Regions from separate parts of the Homo sapiens genome. Here region 2 is linked to region 1. The links come from fine-mapping of genetic effects on plasma protein levels. A gene starts in region 1. The other region holds a variant in brackets. All regions are shown on one strand. Distances are from middle to middle. Region 1 holds the start of MAD1L1 (mitotic arrest deficient 1 like 1). Region 2 overlaps MAD1L1 (mitotic arrest deficient 1 like 1).

The links. PIP is the chance, under the fine-mapping model, that this variant and not a neighbour inherited with it causes the effect. Protein levels are from antibody-based Olink assays in UK Biobank. Linkage for the fine-mapping came from a reference panel and not from the study's own genotypes, which makes the PIPs less certain.
Region 2: its variant is fine-mapped to the plasma level of the MAD1L1 protein (UK Biobank, PIP above 0.99).

What each region holds. Positions count from the first base shown.
Region 1 is chr7:2,227,740-2,233,098 of GRCh38, reverse strand. It overlaps MAD1L1 (mitotic arrest deficient 1 like 1), which reads left to right and starts at 154. Exons shown (of 19, transcript NM_001013836.2): 1 at 154-227; 2 at 2,372-2,550; 3 at 2,956-3,115. The coding sequence starts at 2,966. RefSeq lists enhancers at 36-165, 1-245 and silencers at 1-258, 236-655.
Region 2 is chr7:2,210,697-2,216,055 of GRCh38, reverse strand. It overlaps MAD1L1 (mitotic arrest deficient 1 like 1), which reads left to right. Exons shown (of 19, transcript NM_001013836.2): 9 at 57-171; 10 at 2,783-2,844. Among named protein-coding and RNA genes, the nearest start is that of MAD1L1, 20 kb to the left of the region's middle. The variant C/G (reference allele first, on the strand shown) is at 2,265.

The DNA of each region.
Region 1 (5,359 bases):
CTCAGCCTTCGGTTCCGAGTCCTTTCCGTGCGGAGTCTCCCAGGGGTGGCGGCTCCGGGTGCGGACGCGGAGTCCCCAGGATCAGCCGGTGCGCAGACTCGGTTCTTTACGGCCCGATTGCCACGCAGGTCTCGCGAGAGCGCAGGCGCAAGTGTCGCGATAAATGGGCGCCGGCGGAGCGGAGGGAGATCCGAGCGGCGGCGGCAAGCTGGCTGCGAGCGGCTGAGGTAAGCGGCCCGGCTCGCGCGGGCGGCGGGGTCCCGGGGTCCCGGGGGTCCCGGGAATGGCAAGGGAGGGGCCGAGGGCCCGGACCGGGTGTGCTCGCCAGGGTGGGGCACAACGACCCAGACCCCGTGCCTCAGGACCCCGCGCCCGCCCCGTCTCCCATGGGCGCGCTCTCCTCTCTGTGCTCTCCCCTCCTCTCCCCACTCCCCTGTCCCCACTCCCCCTTTGGGCTGTGCTGGGGACAGCGGGCCCCTCGCCTGGGTCTCCGCAGCCGTCCCTTGTGCCAGGGCGGGCGGCCGAGGGGCGCGTGCTCGTGGTCCCAGCCCCGGGGTCCCGCTGCCTACCGTGTGGGTCCCCGGGCTAGGGTGCCGGCGCGCCGAGGAAGGGGCCTGAGCTGGCGCCTGGTGGAGAAGTCGGGGCTGCAGGGGCTCTTGGCATCCTGGTGGCTCGCGCCGGTCCGCTCTCAGGAAGGGGGCGTGTGGGCCCGGTTTCCCCTCGGGGATGGCAAGGGCCACCCTGATCTCGTTTGGGCAATGGAGGAATTGGGCTGTGGAGCCTCCTTCCAGGCGGGCCTGCCTCTGCGGGGCTGGCAGCCTGGGGAGCTCAGGCCTCTGCTTGCACCAGGCCAAGGTTCTTGTTAAATGGAAACTCAGAAACTGTGCAGCTGCAGAAGTTCTACCTTTGGCTTTTAAACGCGCTTGGCTGTTCCCTAGTTGTGGCTGGTGGGCCGGCCTGCCATGAGCCCATAGTAAGCGCCGGTGTTGGGGGTGCAAAGTTCTTTACTGCGGTTTGTCTTCAGCCTTCCAAAGCCAGACAGACCCAAGTTCCAATCTCCGTTCTGTAACTTTTTGAAGCTTCGGTTTCATCATCTCTAGAATCTGTGTAAAAAGACCTAATTCACCACCCTGTTGAGACTGAGCTTACAAATATAGTGCTGGTCAACCTGCAGCCGTATTCCCATCATCTAGCGGTGGAAGACTTGAGGGATATTGGCCCCGTTCCCCACAACTTTGCAAGTAGATTTCACTGTCATGAGTTTACAGATGAGGAAACTGAAGTTCAAGAAGTCTCGGTGCTCGGAAATGTCAGATACCTTTCTTTCTGATACCTAGTTGAAAATAGTAGTAGTACTTATTAATGTCACTAGAAATAAACAATGAAAATGAGCACAGCTGTGATGATCATCATCTTTACTGTCACTGTTGCATGCCTCGTTTCTGATTCCCAGAGGCCAGATTTTTTTTTTAATTAATTATTATTATTTTTTGAAACGGAGTCTTGCTCTGGCACCCAGGCTGGAATGCAGTGGCGCGATCTCAGTTCACTGCAACCTCCATCTCCTGGGTTCAAGAAAATCTCCTGTCCCAGCCTCCGGAGTAGCTGGGATTACAGGTGCACGCCACCACATCTGGCTTTAGTAGAGATGGGGTTTCACCATGTTGGCCAGGCTGGTCTCGAACTCCTGACCTGTGGTGATCTGCCCATCTTGGCCTCACAAAGTGCTGGGATTACAGGCATGAGCAACAGTGCCTGGCTTATGTTTATTTATTTATTTATTCATTCATTTATTTATTTTGAGACACTGTCTCACCCCGTTACCCAGGCTGGAGTGCAGTGGTGCGGTCTCAGGTCACTGCAACCTCTGCCTCCCAGTTTCAAGCGATTCTTGTGCCACAGCCTCCTGAGTAGCTGGGATTACAGGCGCACACCACCACACCCGGCTAGTTTTTGTATTTTATTAGAGGTGGGGTTTTGCCATGTTGGCCATTCTGGTCTTGAACTCCGGACCTGCCTCCGCCTCCCGAAGTGCTGGGATTAGAGGCGTGAACCACCCTGCCTGGGCAAGAGGCCAGACTTTGCTGTGAGTGCTCCTGGTAGGTAGTTTCAGGCATCAACTGACTGGATTCAGGAATTCCTAGAAACCTGGGAAAGCATCATTTTTGGTTTTGGGTGTGCCTGTTGAGGGTGTTTCCAGAGGAGATGAGCTTGGGAGTCTGAGTGGACCAGGTGCTGAAGATCCATCCTCAGAGTCAGGGGCAGTATCTAAGAGCCTGGGGGCCTGGAGAGGACAAAAACAGAGAAAAGGCGAATGTGTCCATCTGCCTGCAGGAGCTGGGATACACTCTTCCTCTCCTCTCCTCAACAGCAGCACTCCAAGCTCGCCGGCCTTTGGTCTCCAGGACTTGTCCCAGCAGCCCCTCGAACTGAGAATTACACCATCGGACCCCTGGCTCTGAGGCCTTCAGACTTGGACTGTGTCACACTGCCAGGCTTCCAGGGCTCCAACTTGCAGACGGCCTGTTGTGGGACAGTCTCTGTAATCGCGTGAGTCAGTTTCCCCAATAAAGCCCTTCTCTTGTGTCTGTCTCTGTGTCCTGTTGGCTCTGTGTCTCTGGAGAACCCTCTTACAGTGCAGTTGGGGGACGTGCCACCTGAGTGCTGAGCCCCGCCTCCCGGGCGCCAGCTGTCCATCTGTCCATGTGCAACTGAGACTCAATTGGTGGCTTGCTGGTGGGGATTTGGTGGCATGCTTCCTTGCTTCCATTTTTTGTCTGGTAAATTGGCAGCATGGCTCCCAGTTGCCATTGAAGAATGTGGTTACAGGCATGGGTGTATTATGAGCTCCAATGTGCGTTAGGGGAGTGGGGCTGTCCAGAGGCTCTGCTGACTGCACGGCTGATGGCACGTGGAAAGGCTGCCCCTGACCAGTCCTTTGTCTGTCCCCGGAAGGAAAGCAACCATGGAAGACCTGGGGGAAAACACCATGGTTTTATCCACCCTGAGATCTTTGAACAACTTCATCTCTCAGCGTGTGGAGGGAGGCTCTGGACTGGATATTTCTACCTCGGCCCCAGGTTCTCTGCAGATGCAGTACCAGCAGAGCATGCAGGTGAGTGGCATGTGCCTGGGTGGGAGTCTGCTCTGGGGAGACCCTGGGCCCGGGCAGGACCTCTTCCAGTCTTCTGTAGTTGAGGTGGGTCGGTATTAGCAGAGCCTAGAGACAGCTATTCGTCTCCCAGGTCTCACTATGGGCACTCCTCATTTTGGGGTCGTAGCTGGAGGCTAGTTGGGGCCCTGAGCCATCCTGGCTTAAAGGCCTGCCTTGTTAGCGCCCTGAGTGGGCCTGGCGCTCAGCATTGCGTTCACACAAGTGCACTCACAGACCCTGGTGACAGGATCGGAAAGCCAGTTCATTCATCTAATTGAGGACAGAACCCAAACTGCCTGGGGGAGTGAGCACCAGGACTGTCGGGAAGGCTGTGTTGGAAACACAGTGCTGAGAGTGCCTGGGCAGCCCAGAGACAAAGCCACAGCAGTGAGCAGAAGGACTGGGTGTTTTGTGGTCTCAGACTGTGGAGGGCCATTTACAGATTTTGGGGTGATTTTTACAGTTTTCTTCTATAAAATAGTTGTATTTTGTTTCATTACAAGTTCTTGGGGTTTCTCACTGTAGACACAACTGCAGAGGATTCAGGCCTCCTGAAGGACTTCAGGCTCCAAAGAGTGATGAGCCCAGTCCCAGTTGGGGCTGCGATAATGGGGCCCCCAAGTTGTAGGGAGTGGTGGGGAGTGGAGTGCTGGCTAGTAGTGTCTCCAGCCTTGCCTGGGCCCTGTGGCTGCGCAGGCTCCTCTAGGCTCCTCTGCCTGGACCCTCTTTCCCAGTCCCTGCTGCGGTCCCCAGAGCCGTTCTGTAGTTCTGTCCGCATTAGAGGAGGCTCTGGCTTCCTGCGCTCTCAGAGCCCAGATGAGGCCCTGCTGCATTTGGTTAAACTGTGTGTGCGTGTGCATTTGTTTTGTTGCATAATTGAATTAATGTGTGTTTATTAGAATGCTAGCTTGTGGCCAGATGTGGTGGCTCAGGCCTGTAATCCCAGCACTTTGGGAGGCTGAGGTGGGCGGATCATGAGGTCAGGAGATCAAGATCATCCTGGCTAACACGGTGAAACCCTGTCTCTACTAAAAATACAAAAAATTAGCTGGGCGTGGCACCTGTAGTCCCAGCTACTCGGGAGGCTGGAGCAGGAGAATGGTGTGAACCCGGGAGTCAGAGCTTGCAGTGAGCTGAGATTGCGCCACCGCACTCCAGCCTGGGTGACAGAGTGAGACCCTGTCTCAAAAAAAAAAAAAGAATGCTAGTTGCTAGCTTGCTCACTGCCCTTTCTTGATGAGGACTGTTTTTTATTCTGAGATTAGGTCATATATATATATATGTGTGTGTGTATATATATAATATTTATGTAAATGTTCTTTTGTGAAATTATGAAGGTAATAGATGGTAGTTGTTTTTTATCACTGACAAAATGAGAAGTGGCCAACTCTGAGCTGGTTGCAGTGGCTCATGCCTATAACCCCAGCACTTTGGGAGGCTGAGGTGGCTGGATCACTTGAGGTCAGGAATTTGAGACCAGCCTGACCAACATGGTAAGACCTCATCTCTACTAAAAATACAAAAATTAGGCGGGTGTGGGCACCTGTAATCCCACCTACTCGGGAGGCTGAGGCAGGAGAATCGCTTGAACCTGGGAGGCGGAGGTTGCAGTGAGCCATCGCGCCACTGCACTCCAGCCCGGGTGACAGAGTTGGCAACTCTGGTCTGAAATGCTGTGATTTTAGTGTTGCGAATGTCTGGGACCTCTTGGCCTGTCTGTCAAAGCTGTGGGATTCTAGAGTCTGTCTTGGGGCTCGGAGGCCCCCAGTGCTCACTGGTAAAGGCCTCTCGGTGAGGGGATCAGTGATGGAGTGCGGTAGTCAGAGCAAGGTGGTGAGCGGAGTGATGGCGGCAAGACCAGCCTTGGTCCCTGGCCCCTGTCACATCCCATTCCTGGACTTCGTCGTGGTTCTCTCTCTCCTGCTGAGCCCCCGGCGTGGCAGGGAGGGCCTGGAGAACATGGCAGGCCGGGGGAATGTGTGCTGTCTGGTTTCTCACACATCGTGTTGATTTAACGTAAGGGTAAACTTTCAGGGTTCCTTTCTTTCCGTTGTAGTCAGCTCCAGGCAGAGGTGGCACACGGATCAGGTGTGTCTGGGACTCCTGGTCCCTGCCGGTCGTGCCCCCTGCAGGCGGGGTGCCCACCCTTCTCGAGAGGCTCAGGCTTGACTGCAGACACAGAAGTGAGACCAGGAAGGCTGCTGA
Region 2 (5,359 bases), 17 kb after region 1:
TTGGCCTTATCCCTAGGGTGTGTGGCTATTTGAGCGACTCTTTGTGGCACTGCCAGGGAGATGAGAGAGACCAACGGGCTGCTCCAGGAAGAGCTGGAAGGGCTGCAGAGGAAGCTGGGGCGCCAGGAGAAGATGCAGGAGACGCTGGTTGGCTTGGAGCTGGAGAACGAGGTGAGGGCCTGTGTGGTGTGCGGTTCCTGTGGGTGTCCTCTGCCCTGCCTGGAGGAGCCTCGGTATTGTGGTCACGCCCACCAGCTGCTCACCTACAACATGGAGGTTGCTGTGATGGGGTGGGAGGCAGAATCGTGGTCCCCAGAGAGGTCCATGCCTCATCCTCAGAGCCTGTGAACACAGCACCTTCCCTGGCAGGGCGAATGAGGTGACTGGTCAGCTGGCCCACGGCGGGGAGGGGCTCCTGGGCCATCCTGGGGGCTCAGAGTGATGTGAGAGGGACTTGGCAGCTCTTGCTGGGTGTGGAGATGGAGGACGGGCCACAAGCCAAGGAATGTGGGTCATCTGGAAGCTGGAAAGAGCAGGGAAGTGGACTGTCCCCTGGAATCTGCAGAAGGAACACAACCCTGCCAACACCAGGATTCCAGCTCGGGGAGACCCGTTTTGGATTTCCGATCTAAAGTACTATAAAATATTACATTTGTGGGCTTTTTTTTTTTTTTTTTTTGAGATGGAGTCTCGCCCTGTCCCCAGGCTGGAATGCAATGGTGCGATCTCGGCTCACTGCAACCTCCGCCTCCCGGGTACAAGCGAGTCTCCTGCCTCAGCCTCCTGAGTAGCTGGGACTACAGGCGTGCGCCACCACACCCGGCTAATTTTTGTATTTTTAGTAGAGATAGGGTTTCACCACGTTGGCTAGGATGGTCTTGATCTCTTGGAACTCGTGATCCACCCTCCTCAGCCTCCCAAAGTGCTGGGATTATAGACGTGAGCCACCATGCCCGGCCAGGCTTTTTAAATGTTAAATTTTTTTTTGTAGAGATGGGGTCTCCCTGTGTTGCCTAGGCTGGTCCTGAACTCCTGGGCTCAAGTGACCCTCCCGCCTTTGCCTCCCAAAGTGCTGAGATGACAGGCGTGAGCCTCTGTGCCGCACCAATTTGTGTTGTTTGAAGCCACTTAGTTTGTGGTGATCTGTTTCGGTTGCAGCAGGAAACTGGTACAGAGGGTGAGTCAGAATGCGTGTGGCACTGTGAGGATCAGGGCTGGCAGGGCCCTGTGCTGGGGGTGTTCTGTCTTCACCGCGGCAGTTGGTAGGAAGGTGTCAGTGCTGGAAAACATCCTGCAGTCATGTTGCGGGCAGAGGAGGAAACTGAGGTTCAGAGAAGCTCCCTCTCTTGCCCGGTGCACAGCAAGTTTGGACCAGAATTTAGGCCTTCTGGCCCCTGCCTGGGTCCTCTGTCCTTCATGCCACTTCCCTGTGGCCACAGCCACTCCCCTCTGTGCCTGGCACACCTATGCCGCCTTTCTCCGGTGGTTGTGGGGCCTGGCAGGAGGGCAGACTCCATCTGCAGTGCTCTGCAGCTGCCCAGCTGTCCAGCTGGCCACTTCCAGAGTCCCCTTGGGTGGCGTGGCGTCTCTGTCCTCTTCAGAGCTGTGATACAGCCAAGGTCGTTTTGGGGCCTTGGCCCTGTGACCCACGGTGAGGTGGCTCCCTGTCAGCGGGGGTATCTGGCAGGGACTCTTCTCTCAGGTGCTGGGTTCTGTAGGAGCTTAGCCTGAAAAGACAGCTCCCATGCGACATCTTTTCTCTCTCCCGCGGTGTAATTTATTGTTTGATGGTTGAAGAGTTGGGGCTCTCAAGCCACATTCCGTAGTTGGGTGCTTGCTGCTCCATGTCCCTGGGCCAGCTCCTTCATCTCCCTGTCTGTCTCCCCGTCTGCACAGGGAGGAGTGGTGCTGGCTGCCTTGTCAGGACTGTGAGGCTCACATGAGTCTATGCAAAGTGCTCAGAGCAGTGCCTGGCGCGTAGCGAATGTTCTGTAGCGTTGGCTGTCATATAGTTACTAGTCAAGTGCGTGCCTGCGCATAGGAGGGGCTGTGAGAATACCTCACTGACTTGCCGAGTGGAGCGTTGATAACAGCATGGTGCTTGGCACTGGGTGGAGGTGAAGCGAGGCCAGAACAAAGGCACAGAGTCCCTGCCCTCAGATTGCTTCCGTCCTAGAAGGGCCGTGAGACTCACCTCTTTGGGATGCGGCTCAGCATGGGACAGGCATGTGACACAGAGGGGTGGGCTGGCCTGTAGGCAGTGT[C/G]TCACCCTCCCTCATGCTCCAGGGTGGCTGCCCTCCTCTCCTAGGGCCTGCTGGTCCTGGTCTGCTGTGTGATGGCAGGAAGTTTGGCTCCAGGACTGAGTCTGTCTGCTCCAGGGCTTGGTTCCCTGAGGAGCCCCTGGAAGATGGGGGAGGGATGAGTCCTAACGGCTCAAGGACCCGAGGCTGCTCCCTGGGGCACAGTCAACCCCAGGATCCTTTCTGAGGCTGTCTGCCTTCTCCCTCCACAGCCACACGTTGCTTTTAGCTTGCTGGGATTCACACTTGAATTTACGGGGCCAGGAAGGAGTGAGGCAGGAAGCGCCAGTGTGGCTTCTGCAGTTGGGGAATAATAACCCGGCCACTTCCAAGCAGACTTGGAGCATGTAGCGCCCAGCTCAGAGATGAGGGCAGGCTCTCCTGAGAGGTCAGGGACTTAGCACCGTGATCATGATTGTCAGTCTTATGTGATGATCCTGTGGCAGGTGATGACAGGGTCTGTGCTTTTGTTGTCTTTTCAGAGGCTGCTGGCCAAGCTGCAAAGCTGGGAGAGACTGGACCAGACCATGGGCCTGAGCATCAGGTAGGGAAGGGCAGGTGTCTCCGGGGTCCCGCCTTCTTTGAAGGGTCCTGGGTGAAGAGCAGAGCCTGCTTCCGGCTCACCAGCGCAGTCTCCAGCCAGGCATCTCTGTGGCTGGTGCGGGGCATTTGTCCTGGGCTGCTCAGGTTTAATGAGGCCTTTCCCAGCGGATGGGGCAGTGGAACCCAGTGACTCATCCTGCTGAAGCCTTAGTAACATCTTCATTCAGAAGCGGAATATCCACAGCAAACCAGTGGCAGGCGTCTGATTGCCCTGCGTTGCGGGGCTTTGTGAAAGGACTCTTTTTGGTGTATACCGAGGAAATAATTGCTTTTGGGGGAAATCATTCATTTTAGGGAACTGTAACCAGTGGAGATGAACTGAGTTTTTAGAATTAAGAAAAACCCACTGTATTAGGCTGTTCTTGCATTGCTATAAAGAAATACCAGAGACTGGGTAATTATGAAGAGAAGAGGTGGAATTGGCTCACGCTTCTGCAGCTGTACAGGAAGCATGGTGCTGGCATCTGCTCGGCTTCTGGTGAAGCCGCAGGGAGCTTTCAGTCATGGCGGAAGGTGAAGGGGGAACAGGCACGCCGCAATGCAAAAACAGGAATGAGAGAGCGAGAGAGTGAGCGAGCGTGAGTAGTGTTGGGAGGGAGGTGCCACACACTTCTAAATGACCAGATCTCATGAGAACTCACTATCATGAAGACAGACCCAAGCTGTGAGGGATCCACTCGAGGATCCAAACACTTCCCACGGGGCCCCACTTTCAGCACTGGGGATTACAATTCAACATGAGGCATGGGGCAGGGACACAGATCCAAACGGTTCTCACCCACCATAGTGGAAGACGATTGTCTGGTGCTTGTAGCAGCCTCTTCACGCAGTCTGTGCCAAGCTGAGTGCCAGCGCTTGGGTGGTGGGATGTGGGGTGGAGCTGCCGGGGGACCACCCTGGGTGCTGGGGATGGTATTCTTATAGACAGGTAGCTGGACCGTTCCCAGGTCTGGTCCTGTCTGTCCTCCTGCCCCATCCTTCCCAGGACCCTGTGCTCATCTTTCTCCAGCAGCCGCTCAGTTGGCCCCTGCCCTTCAGTCGCGGTGCCCCTGCAGGTGACCACCTCCTGGCAGCTCTGGTCTGGACCCCTCTTCCTGGTTGCCCTGTGTGCGCCAGGTCTCGAGGAGGTGCAGGAGCGATGCTTTTGAAGGAGCCATCAGAGCCCGGGGCTCAGGGCCCGAGGTGCTGGTGCCGAGGCGGCCTCTTATTGTGTTTGCTTGTGAGATTTCAAGGCTTCCCGCTTCTTGCCTGTCTTTCCTGCTGTTCTTGGAAACTAGGCTGAGACTGAGACTCTCTGAAAGAGCTATCCTTTGACCACACCGTCCGACTGCTGGTTCTGGAATCCATTACCTTCTCATCAGCATTACTGGCTTCAGTTCTCTGTCACCTGAAAGTGCCTCTTCATTTTCTTTGAGCTTTGCTAAGTCAGAGCACGGCCCGGGCTGCTGTCTCCTCTTGAACTCCCCCTGTAGAACACAGACTTCTGTAGGGCCGGCCTCAGCGGGGCCTAAATGCTTTGTGCTTCTGTCTGTTCTCTGGGCTTATTAATTGCTTGGAAGGCGACCCTTCTGCTCCCAGGCATACTCTGGCCAGATGAGAAACCTCTGTGACTTCTTTCCTGTGAAGGGACATCAGAGGCCCCCACGTGCCTGATGGGCCCGGCCCTGCTGGAGGGTCCAGTGTGCAGTTTGCCCTGGAGCACTGGGTGTCAGTCGGGCACGAGACCTGGCACAGCTGGCTGCTGTCTCTGGCTGGTTTCAAAGTACTGTGGATCCTTTCAGCCCTGTTCCCGCATCTGAGCGCCCTGCCTGGGCATGGCTTGTGTGAGGGCGAGCTGGCCTGGGGGTGCTGCCTGGGCGTGGCCAGCATGAGGGCATGCTGGCCCCAGGGGTTCTGCCTGCCTGTGTCTTCTGTGTTCACTCTGCCCTCCCTGGTGGCCAGGCCCTGGATGAGGGAGAGGAGGGGTTGGTCTGTAGGGCTGGTGGAGGTGGGCTGCCTGTGCCCACCACCAGCTTAAAGTGGGCGGGAAGCAAGTGGCATGCATGTGTGGCGCCCTGCAGCTTTGATGAGGAACACAGATAGTTCTTCGGAGGCTGGATTCAAGGCTCCCCCTGCCCCCCGCCACCAACAGTAAGACCTGTGTCAAGTCACTGCGCTGCTCTGGGCCAGTGTTCTCTTTATTGAAAGGGGGACACGGAGCTCTTCTCCCCAACTGCGTGTGAAGATCCGACGTGATCGTGTACTTGTGGAGGGCCCTGTGAGTTGGAGAGGGGCTGGTGCGAGCGTCCTCTCTGAGCAGCCGGAGGCTGATGGCCAGGAAGGTGGATGGAGCCGTCCTCGCTGTGGGGGTCGACCCCTAGTCTCCTGCGTTGGCCTTGGCTGTGGGCCTGGTAGAGGGCAGGTTTCCTCACGTGCTGGGTTGCCTGCCATGCCTGGGCCCCTTCAGGGCTCCCCGC